6 linked regions of the Homo sapiens genome follow. The protein of the gene in region 4 purifies or fractionates together with the protein of the main gene of each other region. This does not show direct contact. Each region holds a gene or a part of one and is shown on either strand. Other genes may lie near its edges. The genes, in order: STEAP2, GALNT16, ERGIC2, PARM1, ORC4 and SCCPDH.

What was found.
Region 1: the proteins of PARM1 (region 4) and STEAP2 purify together in Homo sapiens (affinity purification with mass spectrometry; one large-scale study listed by BioGRID and IntAct). This does not show direct contact.
Region 2: the proteins of PARM1 (region 4) and GALNT16 purify together in Homo sapiens (affinity purification with mass spectrometry; one large-scale study listed by BioGRID and IntAct). This does not show direct contact.
Region 3: the proteins of PARM1 (region 4) and ERGIC2 purify together in Homo sapiens (affinity purification with mass spectrometry; one large-scale study listed by BioGRID and IntAct). This does not show direct contact.
Region 5: the proteins of PARM1 (region 4) and ORC4 purify together in Homo sapiens (affinity purification with mass spectrometry; one large-scale study listed by BioGRID and IntAct). This does not show direct contact.
Region 6: the proteins of PARM1 (region 4) and SCCPDH purify together in Homo sapiens (affinity purification with mass spectrometry; one large-scale study listed by BioGRID and IntAct). This does not show direct contact.

What each region holds. Positions count from the first base shown.
Region 1 is NC_000007.14:90,218,240-90,221,739, reverse strand, and holds part of STEAP2 (metalloreductase STEAP2), read right to left. Parts: intron 1-3,500. UniProt on the Homo sapiens protein: Integral membrane protein that functions as a NADPH-dependent ferric-chelate reductase, using NADPH from one side of the membrane to reduce a Fe(3+) chelate that is bound on the other side of the membrane.
Region 2 is NC_000014.9:69,322,658-69,326,157, reverse strand, and holds part of GALNT16 (polypeptide N-acetylgalactosaminyltransferase 16), read right to left. Parts: intron 1,467-3,500; coding exon 1,368-1,466; intron 822-1,367; coding exon 754-821; intron 197-753; coding exon 131-196; intron 1-130. UniProt on the Homo sapiens protein: Catalyzes the initial reaction in O-linked oligosaccharide biosynthesis, the transfer of an N-acetyl-D-galactosamine residue to a serine or threonine residue on the protein receptor.
Region 3 is NC_000012.12:29,346,673-29,350,172, forward strand, and holds part of ERGIC2 (endoplasmic reticulum-Golgi intermediate compartment protein 2), read right to left. Parts: intron 3,397-3,500; coding exon 3,341-3,396; intron 2,506-3,340; coding exon 2,407-2,505; intron 1-2,406. UniProt on the Homo sapiens protein: Possible role in transport between endoplasmic reticulum and Golgi.
Region 4 is NC_000004.12:75,027,116-75,030,615, reverse strand, and holds part of PARM1 (prostate androgen-regulated mucin-like protein 1 precursor), read right to left. Parts: intron 1-3,500.
Region 5 is NC_000002.12:147,951,238-147,954,737, forward strand, and holds part of ORC4 (origin recognition complex subunit 4), read right to left. Parts: intron 1,288-3,500; coding exon 1,136-1,287; intron 1-1,135. UniProt on the Homo sapiens protein: Component of the origin recognition complex (ORC) that binds origins of replication. DNA-binding is ATP-dependent. The specific DNA sequences that define origins of replication have not been identified yet.
Region 6 is NC_000001.11:246,762,409-246,765,522, reverse strand, and holds part of SCCPDH (saccharopine dehydrogenase-like oxidoreductase), read right to left. Parts: intron 1,278-3,114; coding exon 1,166-1,277; intron 1-1,165.

The sequences.
Region 1 (3,500 bases), on a different chromosome or scaffold from region 4:
ATATGACTATAATGTGCTGTGGGGAAGACCTTCTTGTATTGTATCTGTTTGGAGATCTCTAAGTTACCTGTATCCGGGTGTCTACATCTCTCACTAGACTTGGGAAGTTTTCATTGTTGAATAACTTTGAATGCAAATGGATTAAACTTTCCACTGAAAAGATATGGACTAGTAATAGATAAAAAATCATAACCCAAGTATATGCTGGGTACAAGAAACCCATCTAACATATAAAAACACATATAAGACTGAAAGCAAAGGGATGGAGAAAGATAGTCCATGCAAATGGAAACCAAAAGTCACTATACTTATATCAAATAAAACAGTTTGAGTCAAAAACAGTATAAAGAGACAATGAAGGTCATTATATAATGATAATAGATAAATTCTAGCAAGAGGATATAACAATTCTAAACATATATACACCCAACAACAGACCACTCAGATATATTAATATAAATAAAGTGTTATCAGATCTAAAAGGAGAAACAGACGCCAATACAACAACATTTGGGGACTTCAACACCGCCTGCCAGCATCTGACAGATAATCTAGACAGAAAATTAACAAAGAAACATTGAATTTAAACTATACGTTAGACCAAATGGACCTAACAAACATTCACAGAACATTTTATACAACAGTTACAGAATACAAATTCTCATCAGCACATAGACATTCTCTAGGAATGACCATGTTAGAACACAAAATAAGATTCAACAAATTTTTTAAAAATCGAAGTCATATCAAGTACTTCCTCAGACCACAATGGAATAAAACTAGAAGTCAACAACATGAGGAACTTTTGAAACTGTAAAAATAAATGATTAAACAACATGCTCCTAAATGACTACGGGGGCAAAGAATAAATTAAGGAAGAAATCAAAAAATTTCCCTCAACAAATAAAAATAAAAACACAACACACTGAAACCCATGAGATACAGCAAAAGCAGTGCTAAGATGGAAGCTTATATCAACAAGCACCTACACCAAAAAATCATTACGATTTCAAATAAACAACTTAATGATGTACCTCAAGGAACTAGAAAAGCAAAAACAAGCCAAACCCCAAATTGGTAAAAGGAAAGTAATAATAAAGATCAGAGCAGAACTAGACAAATTGGGACTTAAAAAACAATACAAAGGATGGATGAAACAAAAAGTTTTGTTTTTTGAAAAGATAAAATTGATAAAGCACTTGCTAGACTAACCAAGAAAAAAGAGGAAATACTCCAATAAAAAATCAGAAATGGAAAAGGAAACATTACAATTGATACCACAGAAATACATAAGATCATGAGAAGCTATTATGAACAACTATACACCAACAAACTGGAAAACCTAGAGGAAATGGATAAACTGCTACACATATACAAGCTACCAAGATTGAAATGGGAAGAAATGGAAAACCTGGACAGACCAGTAACAAAAAAAGTTGAGGCAGTAATTAAAAAACTCCCAACAAAGAAAAGTCCAGGGCCAGATGGCTTCACTGCCGAATTCTACCAAACTTTCAAAACAGACCTAACACCAATTCTCTTCAAACTCTTCCAAAACATTAAACAGGAGGGAATTCTGCCTAACTCATTCTATGAGGTCAGCATTATCTTCACACCAAAAGCAAACAAGGCTCAACAAAAAAGAAAACTACATACTATTATTCCTGATGAGCACAGATACAAAAACTCTCAACAAAATACTAGCAAACCAAGGGCCAGACATGATGGCTTATGCCTGTAATCCCAGCACTTTGGGAGGCCAATGCAGGAGGATGGATTGAAGCCAGGAGTTTAAGCCCAGCCTGGGCAACATAATGAGACCCTCGTCTCTACAAAAAATTTAAACAATAGCTAGGTGTGGTGGTACACACCTGAAGTCCTAGTACTCGGGAGCTGAGGCAGAAGAATCACCTGAGCCCAGAAGTTGAAGGCTGCAGTGATTTATGATTGCATAACCGCACTCCCTCCTGGGCAACAGAGCAAGACCCTGTCTCCTAAAAATTGTGTGTGTGCGCGCGTGTGTGTCTGTAGAAGCAAACCAAATCTAACAACTCATAAAAAAAACACACACACATCATGATCAAAGGGGATTTATTCCAGGAATGCATCCCAGGGATACAAGGATGGTTCAACATATGCAAATCAACAACTGTGATACATCACCTGAAGAGAATGAAGGACAATAACCATATGATCATCTCAATAGATGCAGAAAAAACATTTGAGAAAATTTAGCATCCCCTCATGATAAAACTTGCAACAAACTAGGGATAGAAAAAATATGCTTCACATAATAAGGGCTTATATGATCTATATAATAATAATATAGCTATCATTATTTTGAAATGGGGAAAAGCTCAAAGCCTTTCCTCTATGAACAGAAACAAGACAAGGATGCCACTTTCACCACTTCTATTCAACATCATATTGGAAGTCCTAGCCAGAGCAACCAGGAAAGAGAAAGAATAAAAGGTACCCAAACTGGAAAAGAGGAAGGTCAAATTATCCCTCTTTGCTGATGATATGATCTTAGATCTAGATAAACCTAAAGATTTCACACAAAAACTCTTAGATCTGATAAATAAATTCAATAAAGTTGCAGGATACAAAATCGACATACAAAAATCAGTACCATTTCTATACACCAACAATGAACTTGCTGAAAAAGACACCAAGAAGGCAATCCCATTTACAATAGCTATAAAAAAAACAAAAACAAACAAAAAACAACTAGGAATATATTTAACCAAGGAGGTGAAAGTTTGCTACAAGGAAAACTACAAAGCACTGTAGAAAAAAATTAAAGATGACATAAACGAATGGAAAAACATTCCATGCTTATGGATTGGAAGAATTAATATTAAAATGACCATACTGCCCAAAGCAATACACAGATTCAATGCAATCCCTATCAAAATACCAATGTGATTTTTCATAGAATTAGAAAAGACAATCCTAAAATTCATATAGAACCAAAAAATATCCTGAATAGCTACAGCAATCCTAAGCAAAAAGAACAAAGCTGAAGGCATCACACTACCTGACTTCAAAATATATTACAAGGCAATAGTAACCGAAAAAACATGGTACCGGTATAAAAACAAATGCACAGATCAATGAATGCAACAGATTAGATAATCCACAAAAAAAATCCACACATTTACAGCCAACTGATTGTCAACAAAGGCACCAAGAACATACACTGAGGAAAGGATATCCTCTTCAAATATATGGTACTTAGACAATTGGATATCTGTATGCAGAAGAATAAAACTGGACCCCTGTCCCTCACCATATACAAAAATCAACGCAAGGTCAACTAAAGACTTAAACATAAGACCCAAAACCCCTCATTTCAAGAAGAAAACATTGGGGAAATATTTGAAGACATTGGTCTAGGCAAAGATTTTATGGCTAGGACCTCAAAAGCACAGCAACAACAACAAAAAAATAGACAAATGGGACTATATTAAACTAAAAGACTTCCGTGCAGCAAAGGA
Region 2 (3,500 bases), on a different chromosome or scaffold from region 4:
TGGTCTCAGCCATCAGGAATGCAGCAGGACCATGTTGGCTTGGTGTGCCACGGCACCAAGAGAGAGTGGGGAAGTGCACAGGATGACACCAAGATGGGCCCTTGGTGGGACCCAGGGTGCAAGGACTCACCTTCCCGCCGATCATTGCGCAGGCACTTGACCTTGGGGATCCTGGTCAGGAGTAGACAGTCTTCCGCTGAGGATGCAAAGAGGAAGGCAAGCTCATTTAGACATGGGCATCAGGCCACTAGTGGTTTGGCTGCCATGAAAATTGCCCCATACTAAGCCCAGGAAAGGGTTGGGGATGGGGATTGGGAAGAGGTATGGTCATCACTACTGGCCGAAGGGTTGCCCTGCCCCACTCTCAGGCCAGACTGAGGAGTGCCTGTACCTATGGCAGTACTCCACTCCACCTCAGGGAGCACTAGAAAGCACGCTTGGGGGTGGCTACCAGCCCAGCTATCATCTGCATTTGGCAGTTGTAATAATGAAGGATGCTGTTGATTTTCTTTACTTTTTAAAAACAATATCATCTCACTAGAGTCCCATCCAAAGCAACACCCACCCTTCTTTCCCCTCCTTTGACACCAGGGAACAGGACCAGGGAGGGGTCCTAGAAAAGACAGGATCCCTGCTGGGGGCAGAAAGGTGTCTGCGATGGTCAGGACAACCTCAGGGTGCTTGCCTTGGTGTTCTGGGGAAACAGGGACGAGGGCGGAATGGAGGGCTGCAAAAAGGAAGGTGACTACTCACGATCTGAGCTGAAGTCATCCACTAAAATGATCTCCTGGATCAAGTTGGCAGGAGTTCGGTTCAGGACACTACAGTAGCAGTGGAAACAGAGAAAGAGCCTGGATTTAGGAACCACCTCCCATTTTTACCACTCCCGGGGCCGTGGGACTCCCCAGCCGCCCAGCTCCAGGGCCAGCATGCTGGGCGCTCCTACCTGAATCCTATTCTTGTCTAAGTTCATTGAGGAAATGGGGAGATGGGAGTTCAACTTGACCACAAGCCCAGGCTTAGCAGGAAGAATCCACCTCCAATCCACCTCTCTCTGACACTGACAGACACTGCTGGGCTTCCATCACCCTCCTGAGGCCTCCTGTCTAGCCCGGCCTCCCTCAGCTCCTGACACCTGCATTTCTGCCCTTGTCCTGGACATCTGACCTGGTGTTTGACTGTCGCATTCCTCTAACAGTTTGACTTCTGGGGTCTTCCTGGCCCTGATTCACCAGTCTCAGCCTCTCAGAAGTACAGGACTCAGCCTCCAGCACCTGCTGGGCTTCAAGCTGTCTGGCCACAGCGCCCAATCCCAATGTCCTCCCCTGCCAGCACCACTGAGATGAGAGTCCCATGGCTGGACTTACCTCTTCACTGTGCGCAGCAGGGTGGAACGGGCCTCATTGTGGAAGGTGATGATGACGCTGGTGGCTGGCAGGTCCGAGGAGTAGGACACAGATGGGCAGCTGAGAAGGGAGCACAGAGGTCAGAGCCAGCCATGAGGGCATCCTCAGGGCAGGTCAATGTTTTTCTTTGTCCAGTCTTGTGCCTGAGAATACTTCTGCCAGGCAGAGAAGGCACACCAACAGCCAGGCCAGAGGCCCCGCGCCTCCACCCCCATGCTGCATCCCACACTGGCCCAGAACCCCGATGCCACCCATCCTGGGGTCCTGGGAGGGAAGCAGCAGGTTGGGAGACCTTCCAAGGCCTGGGGGCTCTTTACCAGAGATCTCAGAGCCCCCAGAGGGGGCTCCCTAGTATATACAGATACTGCACCAGGCCCCAGGATACAGCCCTGACCACACTCTGTCGTATGGTGGGGGGTATGTGCGAGAGGGAAAACTACCTCTGTTTGTCCTGATACCCTAGAGTTTCTTCCTTCTCTCTTCCCAGCTCAGGACATTTGGTAGAATCTGCAGAGGAATCACCCCTACCCTGGCTGCCAGGGAATTCCTCCCTGTCACTGCCCAACACTGACAGCCCTGCTGCAGACAACAAGCTGGGGAGCAGTCTCACTCCTCCCAGGGTACTGGGTCCCCTGGAGGAAACAAGCCTCTGTTAAGACACCAAAGGCCTATCCCGTCACTTCCTCCCTCCCCAGCCATCCATAGACACCACATTTTCTGGCCTACTGGCTCCCTCTCCTCTAGAAAGGGAGTGAAAACAATTCATTCCTGCCAGACTTCATCCCTGTTGTTTCTGCGTATGCATTTATTTGAGCTCCTGGGGTGCTGGAAGGTGGCCTCCGTTGCTGGTTTTCATAGCAATCTTCTTTATTACAATTGCTCTCTGACTATTCCACCAGTGCCCGTTTTTTCATTGTGGCATTCATTCTACTGACAGCAGCTTACAGCCCGAATTCCCAGGCCTGTTTCCTGCCCTGCAGAGCAGACCAGGTCAGACAGGCAGGAGTCCCACTAGCCTGGGACCCCCCTGGGGGAAATCTTGAGAGGCTGTGCAATAATTCTCCTTGAGAGGGGGTGTAGGGTAGTGGTGGCGGAGGGAAATTTGCCTTCTACCCCTTGAGAAACCATGCTGTTCAAGGGCCTATGAATTGTGGGGGAGGGAGTGAGCTTGGCCGGCTGAGCTGGGGTGTGCTGGGAGCAGCAAATACCTCCTAAGTGTGCACCCTCCCAGTGCTGACCTCCAGGGCCCCAGTCCTCTGTCCTGATCCCCCAACCATCCGGTGCCCAGAAAGGAGGGAATCGGGACAGTGACGTCTCCCTGAAGGGGGCAAACCCACCCACACCCCATCTGAAGGGTGAACTTGACCTCCCCACCGGCTCCCTCCAGCCCTTTCGGCATGCATGCCTCTGGGATTGATGTTACTTAGCATGGGGGTTTATCTGGCTCCCAGGAGCCAGGAGCCTCTAAAGGGGTTTGTCCCAGCCCTGAGTTTTGAGTTTGGAGCTGATGGGGTTTTCTCTGTGATCCTCCTCGGCCTGTCTTATGTGGTTTATGTCCCTTTGCTCCCCTGGAGCGGGCTCCCTAGATTGAGGCTGGACCAGAAATGAACCTGACAATTTGGAGTCCAGCGGACACTACAGCCTGCAGGGCTGCAAGGAAGAGCAGCTTCTACCAGCAAACTGGCCCCACCATGGCAGGAGGCCTGCCCACTAAAGCCAGCACGTCCTTTGCTTCCCTACACGTGTGCATGCGTGCGCGCGTGCGCGCGCACACACACACACACACACACACACACACACACACACACACACACACACACACACACCCCGTGAGCCACCTCAGCTTTCTTTTTTCTTTTTTGAGACGGAGCCTTACTCTGGCACCCAGGCTGGAGTACGGTACTGCGATCTTGGCTCACTGCAACCTCTGCCTCCCAGGTTCAAGAGATTCTCCTGCCTTAGCCTCCCGAGTAGCTGAGATTACAGGTGCCCACCACCACACCCAGCTAATTTTTGTATTTTAGTAGAGACAGGGTTTCACCATGATAGGCAGGCTGGTCTTGAACTCCTGACCTCAAATGATCCACCCACCTC
Region 3 (3,500 bases), on a different chromosome or scaffold from region 4:
TCAATGATGGCCTGGGGTTACTGTATAATCAAAAGGATCATTTTTATACAGTCATTAGGCATCTCTAAGTTTGACACAAGTTTTAAATACCAGAATATTACCAATTACTAATTAACTGTAAACAATTACCCATTCACATAATATAAAACATGTTAATTCTCCGGGTCTAGAGAATTCTCTAGAAAAAGTATAATTAGATACACCTATCCATAGATTCAACTAGAGAAGCAAGTAAATGTTTTTATTATCCTTTTGTTAGAGATGAAGCAACTCAAGTACAGGGATGTTAAGAAACAGGCCAAAGTCCAAGTTATTAAGTGGCAGAGTGAGAACTTGAACCCAGGCGGTTCCACTCAAGGGGAATATGGTCTTAAATTTAAGCAGAAAAAATTCTCCCAGATTTAAATAGAAGCTTGCACCCCTTTGTACATAAAAGAGTAAAAGCTTTGACCTTCCTCTCCACTTCTCTCTCACTCATGGAAGGAATGATTCATCTGCAAAAAGTAATCATGTGTGGCTAAGCCACTCAATTAGATAGTATAGGCATTCTCTCTCTTAAACAGCTCTGTCTTCAAGACATACATAACCACCTTCTACCATTAGGAAAGTGAGCCATCCCTGCCATTTGAGAAGTCAGCAGGGTAGGAGGAGTATGGAGTTAGGTTGTCCAGTTTGTGGCAGCACATATAGGTTGTTTTATTTCTACCGGCTTCATTAATAATAAAGCTGCCTGCAATGCTCTCAAAAAGATAATCGCTTAGCTCACTTATTTACTTCACTCAAGTTTTTTTCAAATACCACAGCCTCTTCCATGCCCTTTCTCATATCATAGGCAATCTCCTTTATTTTGTTCAGAGCCGTTTGCCCTAACACTTATTACCTAAAGATCTAATTCCCTATAGGAACGTGCGCTCTATGAAGGGCAGGGACTATGTCTACCTTGTTTATCCAAATCTGTACTGCATTAAAGATGTTAATTGTTAAGTAACTCCTGCAATACTTCTGGAGAACATCAGGAAAGGGATAGCTACCTGACATAGCAGATATGTAATGTTGATTTTTTTCTTTTTGGAAAAAGAGGCTGAAAAAAACATATATTACGAAGGAGAAAAGTATACAAACTGCTTTAAAGCTTTGAAAAACCTGATGATACTCACCTAACGGCATTTCAGAATATGACTCTAAATACCTCTTAGTTTCTCTGAATTTATAAAGAAGTACACTTAAAAACAGCTTTTTGAAAATTGACCTGTTTATATTTAGAAGAGCTTCTGTGCAAAAATTTGTAGTTCATTTTAGCATCTTGAAACAAAGCATCGACCAGTATGTTTCCAAATGAGCATCTCTCAGGTAACATGCAATGCATTTCAGAGGAGAATTAACATATGCTTAGATTACAGATTAGATTATACTGACTAAAGCTTATAAATCTCAAAATGTTTCCATCCACACATTTCTAAATTTAGTACACTCAGGTTTCCTGAAGTGAAACATTCCCACATGAACATAAAATATTCATGAATGTAAATCAGTATTCTAAATTCTAAACATCTTTAATATATGATTATAACACTGCTAAAAAGTAAAGAATATGAATAAATCTGAATAGGATATTAATAAATCTACTTAAATTAATAAAAAACTAAATCCTTAATTACAATTTTACAAAGGATAGAATTCCTACTAGCTGAACAAGCTTCAGAAGTCCTTAAAATGTCCAATAGCTGGAACATGGTATATAATATGACTATTTTAGAAAGAGGCAATCAAAAACCTGCAGAAAACATGAGAACAGACTACTTTCTAAAAAACTAAGAAAATGATCTTTCCATATTTGGATAGACTTGATACTTTAAATGGAGCAGAAGGTTAAATAGAACATTTTAAAAAGGTTATCTGTGCTATAATGTACTCCTTCTATGTTAATAACCAAACCATTCCAGAATAACTAGGTTTCTGGTGTTTGTAAAATTCTCCAGAGAGGTTTCTGAAATGATATATATGCATTTTAAAACTTTGAACCTATATTATACAAAGAAGAAAATTCTTCTCATAATGTTGAACCTTTTTTTCATTCTTATTCTTTGGTGAATACAAAAAAGTGCAGTTATGCCCTGTTAATGTATTAACCTTTCATCTATTTCTACTGTTTAAATTGAACTCCTTCTGCCTTTTAATTCCTTCATCTTTTAACTTGAATTTCTTTATTCTGTTCTATGGCTCATTTTTGAATATTCAAATTTCATCCACTACTAGGACAAATTCTCTTCACATACATCTCAATCACCAACCACTTAAAGATTATCTTTACACAGTAGTTAGGAAGACATTAAAAATGTATTAATATTCAGGTTATAAGCAAAATTTTCTACATGTAAAATCCAACAATAATTATTAAATACTTACGATCTATAGCAATTTTTTCAGTTCCATCTAAAGGATTAATAATTGCTGGAACAAGCTCTCCAAAAGACAAATGATCTATTCTATGAGAAAAATTGTAAGCTAAAAGGCAAAAAATAAAAACAACTTAGCAGAGAAATTATATTATTCAAAATTACTTGGTACAGACTGGTTTACATCCTTATCTATTCTCAAATGAAAATGTTTAAAATCTTCAAGGATAATAATACAGTATTTTAAGCCACAATACTTTGAGAAAAATAAATGTAAATATATGCGAATTAAATGTATAAAATAAATTCTGACAAAATGCTATATCTCAAATTTAATAATTATATACAATTTAACGTCTAGAAAATATTAATATATAATGAAAGCCAAAAATATACATCTTTCCTTTTCCAAATCATCATATAGTTAACAGGACGGTATTGTTAGAATTGGAATGATGGCCATGTGGCCATATAATAAAACTGATCAGATATATTTTTAATACACTATTGCTAAATGTGACCAAACTAATTTTCTGTGGAATCCATTACTTGTTTTGTCCTCTAAAGCAGACTTTAAGAACTTAAGTCTTAAGACAATCATGATACCAAACTAACCTGAATACTTTATACATGTCTATACATCCATATTTCAATTTGCAAATTGAAATAAACTGCAAATATATTATTTTCTTTATCCCTAAAAATTAGCAGAAATGTGTACAAAGTTATAGAAAGTACACTAGGCTTTCCTCCCTAACCTCAGCAACTCAGAGCCATGACCAAATACAAATGCAGATTAAAGTAAATCAATTTAAAAATTTATTTTTTCCTTTGGATGAATATGTTTTCAAAACAGCTCACTTTCAACTACACTATATCTGCACTTTTAAAAATAATATTTTTTCAAGTACATCTTTACTGAAAAAAAGTCAGAATCTGCTTACATTCATGGTTGACAAGTGCTGCCAAATGTGCATGACCACGAGGATGTGGAATTGCCCTGAAAGGAGAAAAAACAATTATTAAAGTAGTACCATTTATATGTATAATTAATTAAAATCAGAAACTGGATCTTCCCTAAGTTATATAATTTTTCTTAGTACA
Region 4 (3,500 bases):
CTGTGCTAGCACGTTTCACTCTACCAACATGTTCTGCCTATCCAGAGGGCTGGTGAAGGCCTGTGAACCAAAACCTCTTTGAATTTTGGGCCTCCCTGAAGTCTGGAATTCCTCAGGGTTGCATTTTGCCACTTTTTTTTAATGGCCCAGGACCAGAATAAATGGGCTAAAGAATAACCATAGCTACCATTTGCAGATGATTACTTTGGGCTGAGACTATGCACAAAACTGTACAGCTATCATCTTATTTAATTCTCTTTACAAGGTGGGCAGAATTATTCCCATTTTATAGATGAGGAAGTTAAGGCTCAGAGAGATTAAGGTTTTACATGTGGTAAATGATTGAACTATCATTTGGACCCAGTACTATTTAGTCCTGGTTTTGCATTTTTAATCATTAACTTTTCTTAGCCTGGCCAGCTCCTATTCTTCTTCACTATCTAGCTAAATAGCAACTCTTCTGAGCCGTTTTCCCTGACACCCCTGGGTAAAATTACAGTGTTGCTCTGTGTTCTCAGATCTCAGCATCAATTTCTTTCAAGCATTCTGTATTATGTTTATGTGCTTCCCTAGGTCATTTCTATTCATGGCCATCTTGCATCTCTTCCCATTTCTTTGTGCACTGTTAGCTTAAGGCACCATCTTTGGCCCACAGTGGGTACTTAACTCATGTATTTAATGTTGAATAAACAAATATACTTTTAGCTTAAAAAAGATTACCAGAATTTTTTTTTTTTTTAGCCTAATCATTGTCCTAAAAAAGTTTCCACACAGCTGACTCACCACCTATTCACCTTGGAATCACCTGCTCCAGTTCTTACCTGAGTACCTACTCCTATGATTACATCTATGATCCCACCTCCCCAGCCCCCTGCCCTTCTCACTGTGCACTTGAAAGTCCCCATCAGTGACCAAGGTGGTTAGTTGGAGGAGAGTTCTTTTAGGAATGAATTAGTCCATTCTCATGCTGCTAACAAAGGCATACTCAAGATGGTAATTTATATATAAAAAAAGGTTTAATGGACTCACAGTTCCACATGGCTGGGGAGGCCTCACAATCATGGTGGAAGGTGAAAGGCATGTCTTACATGGTGGCAGGCAAGAGAGCATGGGCAGGGTAACTTCTTTTTATAAAACCATCAGATCTTCACTATCACGAGAACAGCATGGGTAAAACTCACCCCCATGATTCCATTACCTCCCACTGGGTCCCTCCCATGACACATGGGGATTATTACAATTCAAGGTAAGATTTGGGTGGGGACACACAGCCAAACCATACCAAGGAATAATTGTCTAAATAGAGTCAGATAACATCCTGGAAGCAGCCAGAGTAAACTCCTGGTCAGCCTTGTCGGCCACTACTCCACTGCTCTACAACCCTGAGGAAGGAGGCTGCCTTTGGGGGTATTCCTTTCCCTGCTTTAGCTCTGTTCTATACCCTGAGGCAGTCCAGGAATCAACTGTGGCATCATTTAAGAGTCTCTCTCCCCACACTCACACATCCCCATGGGCCCGCACGCCACACAGATGGGCCCCTTTTCTTGATCACACACTCAGAAGGGGTTCTGTTCATGTCCAAGCCTCCTGCCTCTCACTTGACCAAAAGGGTCCTTCTATATTCCTGGGCTTAGCAATATTCTCAAACCTCAAATGTTCCTCTAGGGACTCTTCTCATTGAGGGATTTTCTTTTTATTTCACTTTAAACATGAAATAAACATTTTATTTGAGCTCTTTGGAAAAAATATTAATATTCACCAATTGTATCCAAAATGTAAATATTAGGACATGATGGGATGAACCCAAACAACCTCTGAAGAAATAACTTTGCTGGGCTCTTTAAAGAAGTTGTTGTTACTCTGAGAGAGCTGGGGGTGGAGGAGGTGATGGTGGAAAGTTTCCAGAGGTGAAAAAGAGGTGAGTGTCTCACTGCTATCCATAGATGACTCCTGAGCTACATTCTCCTTGAAAATTCACCAGTCAGCTTATTTAGAAGGTGCGTGTAAATACTTGACCAAGTTCCTGAGTATGTGTGCATGCCTCTGATCTATTTTGAGAAGAGTCTTTAACAAACCTCTTGACTGTTTTTCAATATTCTTGCGCTTTTCTTTCCACTTCCTGGTCCAGAGATTAGGTAAGAATTGGAGAAGAGGAGCAGGTGGCCACTTCAGGGTGTGCCGCAGCTCCTTCAGTCAAGGTCACCAAGAGGAAAGGAACATTTTGTCTCAGAGGAATTCTTTCTCTTTAAAAGCATGTATCTGTGGATGTGCTGGAGGAGGGAAGTGGGCGACTGGCGAGGGCTTGACAGTTAGAACTCTGTGTGTGCCGAATCTCTATTTATTATGCTAGGCTCTTCATTCTCACAGCAAGAGCATCAGATCATGTCTCCTTCCTCCAAAGAACAACAGTAATAGCAGGAGAAATCAACGACAACAAAAATAATAGCAACTAACACTTTCCTGTTACTTACTGTGTGCCAGGGACTGTTCTATGAGCTTCACTTATTTCAGTTCATTTAATCCTCATGAGAAAGTAGGTATTCTTGTTATCTCCATTTTACAGTTGGGGAAACTGAGTCACAGAGATGCTAAGGACCCAAAGCCACAGAACTGCTAAGTAGAAGAACTGGGATACAAGCACAGGTTCGAGAGTCCATGTGTTGCCCACTAGGCTCTCCTGCCACCCTGGGCTCTAGTACTAAATCCTCAACTGCTTTTAAATAAAACCTACAGCTCTGGTACATCCTCTGTCTGCTTTCTGTTAGCTGCCCAGGAATCAGGGCCTGCCTTAGGCTGTGTGATGGCTTGGGTCCTCTTGTACATACTGGTGAAGGAAGAATGAAGCTCAATAATTCAAATTAATTGGGAAGAGGGCTAGTTAGAAGCAGACAACAGTTCTAGAACAGCAACCTTAGATCGTTCAGGTCATTGGTTTCTAGTGTGTGCTGTGGTGCAAAATAACTGCTCAGAATCCTGCCAAATGCTGTTCATTTCAGTGTGTTAAATAACCCAGGGTACATGGTAACTGCAATTTGCTTCTAGTGGGGTGGTAGTGGGAGTGGGGTGTAGTTTGTGAGATGGAGAGAAAGTGAGAAAAGAAAACCTTAGTTCTTAGACACTGCAACCTAGGTAGATCTTAATTTTACCATTATTGGAAGTCTCTTTGTCTTCTGGCCTTGTCTGCTTGGATTTCATGCCCATTCTTCTTTCCATTCCACCCCATGCCAGGGGAAGCACATCTCGTCTCCTCCCTCTTACCCCAAATCCACCCTACAAGCCTCTCCCGAATGAGCTCCATGGGCTCACCTTAAGCCAGGACAGTGTGGTGTGTAGAGACCCAATAGGCAGGGGCCCTGAGGTTTCACCACTCCATGGCGGAGACAAGTGTCAGGCCCCGGGAACCATTCTGGGGTGGGCAGGATTGGATGGGATAGGCAGGCAGGGAGGTAAGAGAGGTGAGTAGTGCCAGCCTCTGTATTTCTGCCTGTGGGTGGAATGGT
Region 5 (3,500 bases), on a different chromosome or scaffold from region 4:
CCTGACACATCTGCCGAGAATGGAGGGGGAAGAGGATTGCAAGAAAGCTATGGAGGCATGGCAGTCATAGCATGAGAAAAGAGACAACTTTGCTATGGTTTGGATATGGTTTGTCCCCACCAAATCTCATGTTGAAATTTAATTGCCAGTGCAACAGTGGGAAGTCACTGGAGTGGACCCTCATAAATAGATTTAATGCCTTCTTACTGGAGTGAGTTCTTGTTCTCATGGGGATAGATTAGTTCTTGAGACAGTGAGTTGTTATAAATTGAGGTTCCAACTCCTATCTGGTTCGTTTTTGCACATTTCGGTTCCCCATTTGACCTTCCACCATGTCATGCAGCATGAAAACCCTTGCAACAAAGCCAGTGCCATGCGCTTGAATTTTTCAGCCTGCAGAACTGTGAGATAAATAAACTTCTTTTCTTTAAAAATTACCAAGTCTCAGGTATTATGTTATAGCAACACAAAATGGGCCAAGGCACTCTTCAATACCAGTTTTATCTGAATTCAGTAAGTTAATACTACATGCGTGTAAGAAGGTAAACACAAAAAGGCCTGTACTGCTGTCCAAAGGTACACATGGTTCAATATGTACAGAGCCTTCACAAGGCAAAGTGATAGTGATATTGAGACTATAGTTAAAATCATTCTAAAATATCCCATGGAATGAAGAAGCCACTATCTACTGTCAGTGCTTGGTAGAATCTTTTCCATTTCTGGAGATGTGTACTTTGAAAGTTGGAATAGTATTACTTAGAGTTGATTTCAAGCCTTTTCAAAATATGGAAAAAAATCTTAAAATAAAAACTATTACCAAGTTTTCTCAAATATTGGTGAGATTTAACCGCCTCATTACTTGATAATGTAGAAATTATATTTATTAGCATAATCTGATTTCATACTTTTTTCTTCAGTAATTTCACTGGGAGGAGGGAGGTATTCATTAATGGGCTAAGGTAACTACTAAACTGTTTTCCTCAATTTGAGTTGAAAGCAGGATAAATACACCAGGCACTGCTGAAACAAAATTTTTAAAATGACCTAAATAAGTGAAAAAAACTAGCAGTGTCAGCAATTAAGCTTGAATTTTAAAATATTATAATCAATTTTTTTAATGAACAGAAAGACTTACCAATCTACATGTAAGACCAATAACTGCTATTGGGGTCTGTGCAGACTGAGAAATGTCAAAAAGATTATAGAGAAGTGTTTGGTTTTTATGATGAGCAAAAAGATCAAATTCATCTAATATGAAGATCACTGGGCAACTGCTAGTTCGGTCACCTAAGATAAAATAAGAGCATTACATTAATAAGAAATTATATCCACCTTTCCTAAATTTCCAAACCATTTACTATATTTCAGTTTTTAAAACTCAATTCTGTAAACATTCTGATAGCCTACTTTGGGTAGGGGATTTACTGATGCATATACGTTCATTCAACAGAAAAAAATTATTCAAAGGACAAACACAGCCCCGACTGCTCTCAAGAAGTTCAGTCTAGGCTGGGCGTGGTGGCTCATGCCTGTAATCCCAGCACTTTGGGAGGCTGAGGTGGGTGGATCACCTGAGGTCGGGAGTTCGAGACCAGCCTGACAAACATGGAGAAATCCCATCTCTACTAAAAATACAAAATTAGTCAGGTGTGGTGGCGCATGCCTGTAATCCCAGCTACTCGGGAGGCTGAGGCAGGAGAATTGCTTGAACCCAGGAGGCAGAGGTTGTGGTGAGCCAAGATCGTGCCACTGCACTCCAGCCTGGGCAACGAGAGTGAAACTCCATCTCAAAAAAAAAAAGTTCAGTCTAGGCCGGGCATGGTGACTCACGCTTGTAATCCCAGCACTTTGGGAGGCCGAGGTAGGTGGATCACCTAAGGTCAGGGGTTTGAGACCAGCCTGGCCAACATGGTAAAACCCCATCTCTGCTATTAAAAAAAAAAAAAAAAATTAGCTACTTGGGAGGCTGAGGCAGGAGAATCTCTTGAACTGCGGAGGCAGAGGTTGCAGTGAGCTGAGATCACACCATTGTATTCTAGCCTGGGCAACAAGAGTGAAACTCCATCTCCAAAAAATAAAAAGTGCAGTCTAGTTCCTAGACTCTAGTAGAGTTTGTTGTTGAAAAATGTCAAAAATCATTTAAATGACTAAAGACTATTATTTTTATAATTACGTAAATATAATTCTTATTTAATGATTATAAAATTGACAGAGTTTTCTATACCTACACAGAACCAAAACACTTTAAGATTAAAATATAAGGGGAGTCACTAATTAATGAACAAAACTAATGCTTTAAAAGAGAGTTGTTTATTTAGTAGAAATACAAGGTACATTTCTTGTAGAAATACTTTTTATAAACAAACTTGTAGATTATAAAGTTCAACTAAAGCCACTTAAACTCCCTTGAAGCACAACTTTTAGCATTTCAACTACAATGCTTTTCATGGGGAAAGTTCCACATCACCCTCTGGTTACATTTTTCTCACTTCAATAATGGAAACAACTTTAGTAAAAGAATCCCTTTTACCTTAGGCTTAACGCCTTTATATTTGTGTTAAAAAGTGAAACAAATATCTGATAAAAGAAAGACTTATTTCAACAAATAACAAATACAGTAGCCTAAATGACTTAATACTGGTACAAAACCAAAGGGATTACTCAAAAGTCTAGAAAGAGACTTATGTACTAATATAGAATTTTAGTATTTGATAAAATATTGCATTATACATCAGTGGGGAAAATTAGTCTATTCAAAGTCAGATCCCTACTTTACAGGTAAAATCAGAATAAATTCCAAACAAATTATAAATTACAAATATATATATATATTAAATAAAAAGATGGATCAATGAATGTTTTTATAATCTGAAGGAGAGAAAAAACTTTCTAGATAAACTTAACTATGTGGAAAACATAAAACTTTAGATCAGCAGAAAAGTCCAAACCAAACTTAAGGGAAGAGAAAAATAAAACACAAAAATTCCGATAAATAAGCATAACATAAACATTACCACAATAGGTCAAAGACCCAACAGGAAATACAGTCGTGTGTCCCTTAATGACAGAGATACGTTCTGAGAAATGTATTGTTAGGTGACTGCATCGTTGTACAAGCATCCTAACAGTGTACTTACCCAAGCCTAGATGGTATAGCCTACTAGACACCTAGGCTATATGGCATAGCCTATTGCTCCTAGGCTATGAACCTATGAGCATGTGATAGTGTAGACAACTGTAACACAATGCGAAGTATTTGTGTATCTAAACATATCTAAACACAGGAAAGGTACAGTAAAAATATGGTTTTATAATCTAATAGGACCACTGTCACATATGTGGTCTATCATTGAATTAAAGGTTGTTATGTGGCACATGACTGTACATAAACCAGGAAATTTCAAAGGTCAATAAAAATATGAAATGACAAGCATCACCACTATCAGAATTATGCAAATTAAGTAACCAGAATTATGCAAATTAAAGAACAAAATTATTCA
Region 6 (3,114 bases), on a different chromosome or scaffold from region 4:
AACGGAACATTAGCATTTATAATCCTGTCAAATAATGAAAATACAGTCAACTTACCTTAAAAAGTCAGGTGGGAATTTCAGAAAAGGGCAAGATGGAAACATACTATCATCTGGCTTGATTAAAATCCCCCGTGGGCCAGGCATGGCAATTCATGCCTGTAATCCCAACCCTTTAGAAGGCTGAGGCAGGAGGACTGCTTGAGCCCAGCCTAGGCAACATAGTGAGACCCCGTCTCAATAAAAAATTATAGCCTGTGACCTAAAAGGGCTGACAGTAATTATACTACAGTTCACAAGTGGACCTGTCTGTCTCTGACAGTAATTATACCACAGTTCACAAGTGGACCTGTCTGTCTCTGACAGTAATTATACCACAGTTCACAAGTGGACCTGTCTGTCTCTGACAGTAATTATACCACAGTTCACAAGTGGACCTGTCTGTCTCTGACAGTAATTATACCACAGTTCACAAGTGGACCTGTCTGTCTCTGACAGTAATTATACCACAGTTCACAAGTGGACCTGTCTGTCTCTGACAGTAATTATACTACAGTTCACAAGTGGACCTGTCTGTCTCTGACAGTAATTATACCACAGTTCACAAGTGGACCTGTCTGTCTCTGACAGTAATTATACCACAGTTCACAAGTGGACCTGTCTGTCTCTGCATAGTTCTGTAAAATGTACAGCAAAAGTTCTTGAACGTTTTGGGCAACATTCTTTTAACAACCTATCAGAAGCCATTCCCTTCCCTTGAAAAGTGCACGTGTGCATACATATTTTACAAACAATGTCAGGGTGTTCAGAGACTCTAAAGAAATCCTAGAGCACAGATTTGACTGACATTATAATTACACTACTTGCATATGAGATTCAAACAGGTGAATATCAACCAATCCCTTTTCCTATTAATACTAATTAAAATTTGCCATTCTGAATTACTGAATCATACTCCAAAAACAGCCAGAGGGAGGGATGCACTAATAAAATTGGATTATATCAATAATTTCAATCTTCCTTTGACAGAATAATTTTAAGTTACTTAATTTGTACAAATGTATTTCTAAAACAATTAAGCTTTAAAAAGAATATATTGTAATGGCATTGTACTTTATAGCTTAAGAGTATAAAATTCCCAAGCATTCTTAAGTGATATGTGAAATACCTGGTCCTTTCACCTGAGTACAAATTTTGATATTTGGTTTGTTCTTATCTGTACCAGTGCCTTGGCTGTATCCTTGACCAAAGAATGTCAGCGTGAATGAGGCAGCATCAATCTGTGAAGGAGAAGGCAAAGGGCGCATTTCATAAATACGTCATTTCCTCCTGGAACATAGTAAAACCGACTATTCTATTTCAAGTGAGACATTGTCAATAGATGAAAACATTATTTTATCTGCCAGAATATCCCGTCATCATTTAAGCAGGGAGCGAAAACTAATTCTTTGAAGCTGTCAGTTTTGAAGACTGGCGTGATGTTGGGGGGAAGGGGAGTGGTAAGAAATAGGGAGGAAATAAAGATGATCTGGAGATAGTTTTTATCGGGGGGCAGAATATAGAAATCTGGTTTTAGATACCTATTTGAGGCGACAAGACAAAAATAGCCAGCAAGTAATGGAAATATGGGCCTGGAGTATAGGTATATAATTGTTCCACTTAAAGATGTAAAAATTCGACTCAAAAAACTAAATTCTTGAGGACTTATCCTAGCATCTTTCACAATCACTAAATTTAGGAATGAGGTGATAAAGAATTCAATCATGATCAACACATTTTTATGAAGTATCAACTAAGGGTCAGATACCATTGAGGCCCTGAGACATAATTACTGCCTTTGCTGGAGCTTACAGTTTAGTAGGAGGAAAGGGGGGGAGAGAGAGATAAACAGATTAAATAACAATGTGACATGAACTAAAACATACAGGCATAACTCAGAGGAGGGTGTTATTAATCTACCAGGGCAGAGGGCAATGGTTCTGAACTGTATATATACACACACACAAACACATTTTAATGGTTGTTTTAAAACCCCAAAAGTAGATGGATTCCAGAAAGGAGAACCCATTATTTAAAGGGAAGAAGGGATGCAGTAGCATAGCCTTTCCAGAACATACAATTCAAGAGGTACAGACAAGGTCAGACACACATGCCACACCTGTCCCATCTCCTGCTATGGCGCCCACACTAATGGGTTCTAATCCTCTCTCAGGCTACACACATTGTCCGACCCAGCATAGTCTCTGGGTGGCTACTATCAATTAATCAAAGTTGGATGAAAAATGAATCCTATGTGCTATCCAGAACTAGATCATGAAGGGTCTAGGATGGCCTCACATCTCTGAAGATGGACTTTCGGCCATTTGTGCTCCAGGGGTGGGTACCAAAACCACTCAAATCTGGAACCTTCTTCCTTCCTCCGCAGTGGTGATTCTCAACCCTGGCAGCACATTAGCATCACTGGGCAGATTTAGAGAGCCCCAGTGCCCAGGCTGCATTCCAGACCAACCGAACCAGAGTCTCTGGTCATCTGTTTTGGGTTCTCTTCCAAAGTTGGGAACCACTGCTCTATGCTTTCAGGCCCCACTCCAGACCTACTGAATCAGAACGTCCAGAAGCAAGATGAGGGCATGTGTCAGTGAAAAAAGCTTCCTAGGTGATTCTTTTTTTTTTTTTTTTTTTTTGGAGAAGGAATCTCGCTGTGTTGCCCAGGCTGGAGTGCAGTGGTGTGATCTCAGCTCACTGCAAGCTCCACCTCCTGAGTTCAAGCAATTCTCCTGCCTCAGCCTCCTGAGTAGCTGGGACTACAGGCGTGCACCACCATGTCCAGCTAATTTCTGTATTTTTAGTAGAGATGAAGTTTCACCTGTTGGCCAGGCTGGTCTTGAACTCCTGACCTTAAGTGATCCACCTCCCTCAGCCTCCCAAAGTGCTGGGATTACAGGTGTGAGCCACTGCGCCCGGCCATGATTCTGATATATGAAATCTCAGTTAAGAATCACTGCCAAAGCAGTGGGCCAGGAACATTTTATAAAGAAGGCAATGACAAGGTCAGATTTTGTGTCTTAGAAAGATCTCTTGGACAGCAGTGGGAAGACAGATTAGAAAGAAACCGTA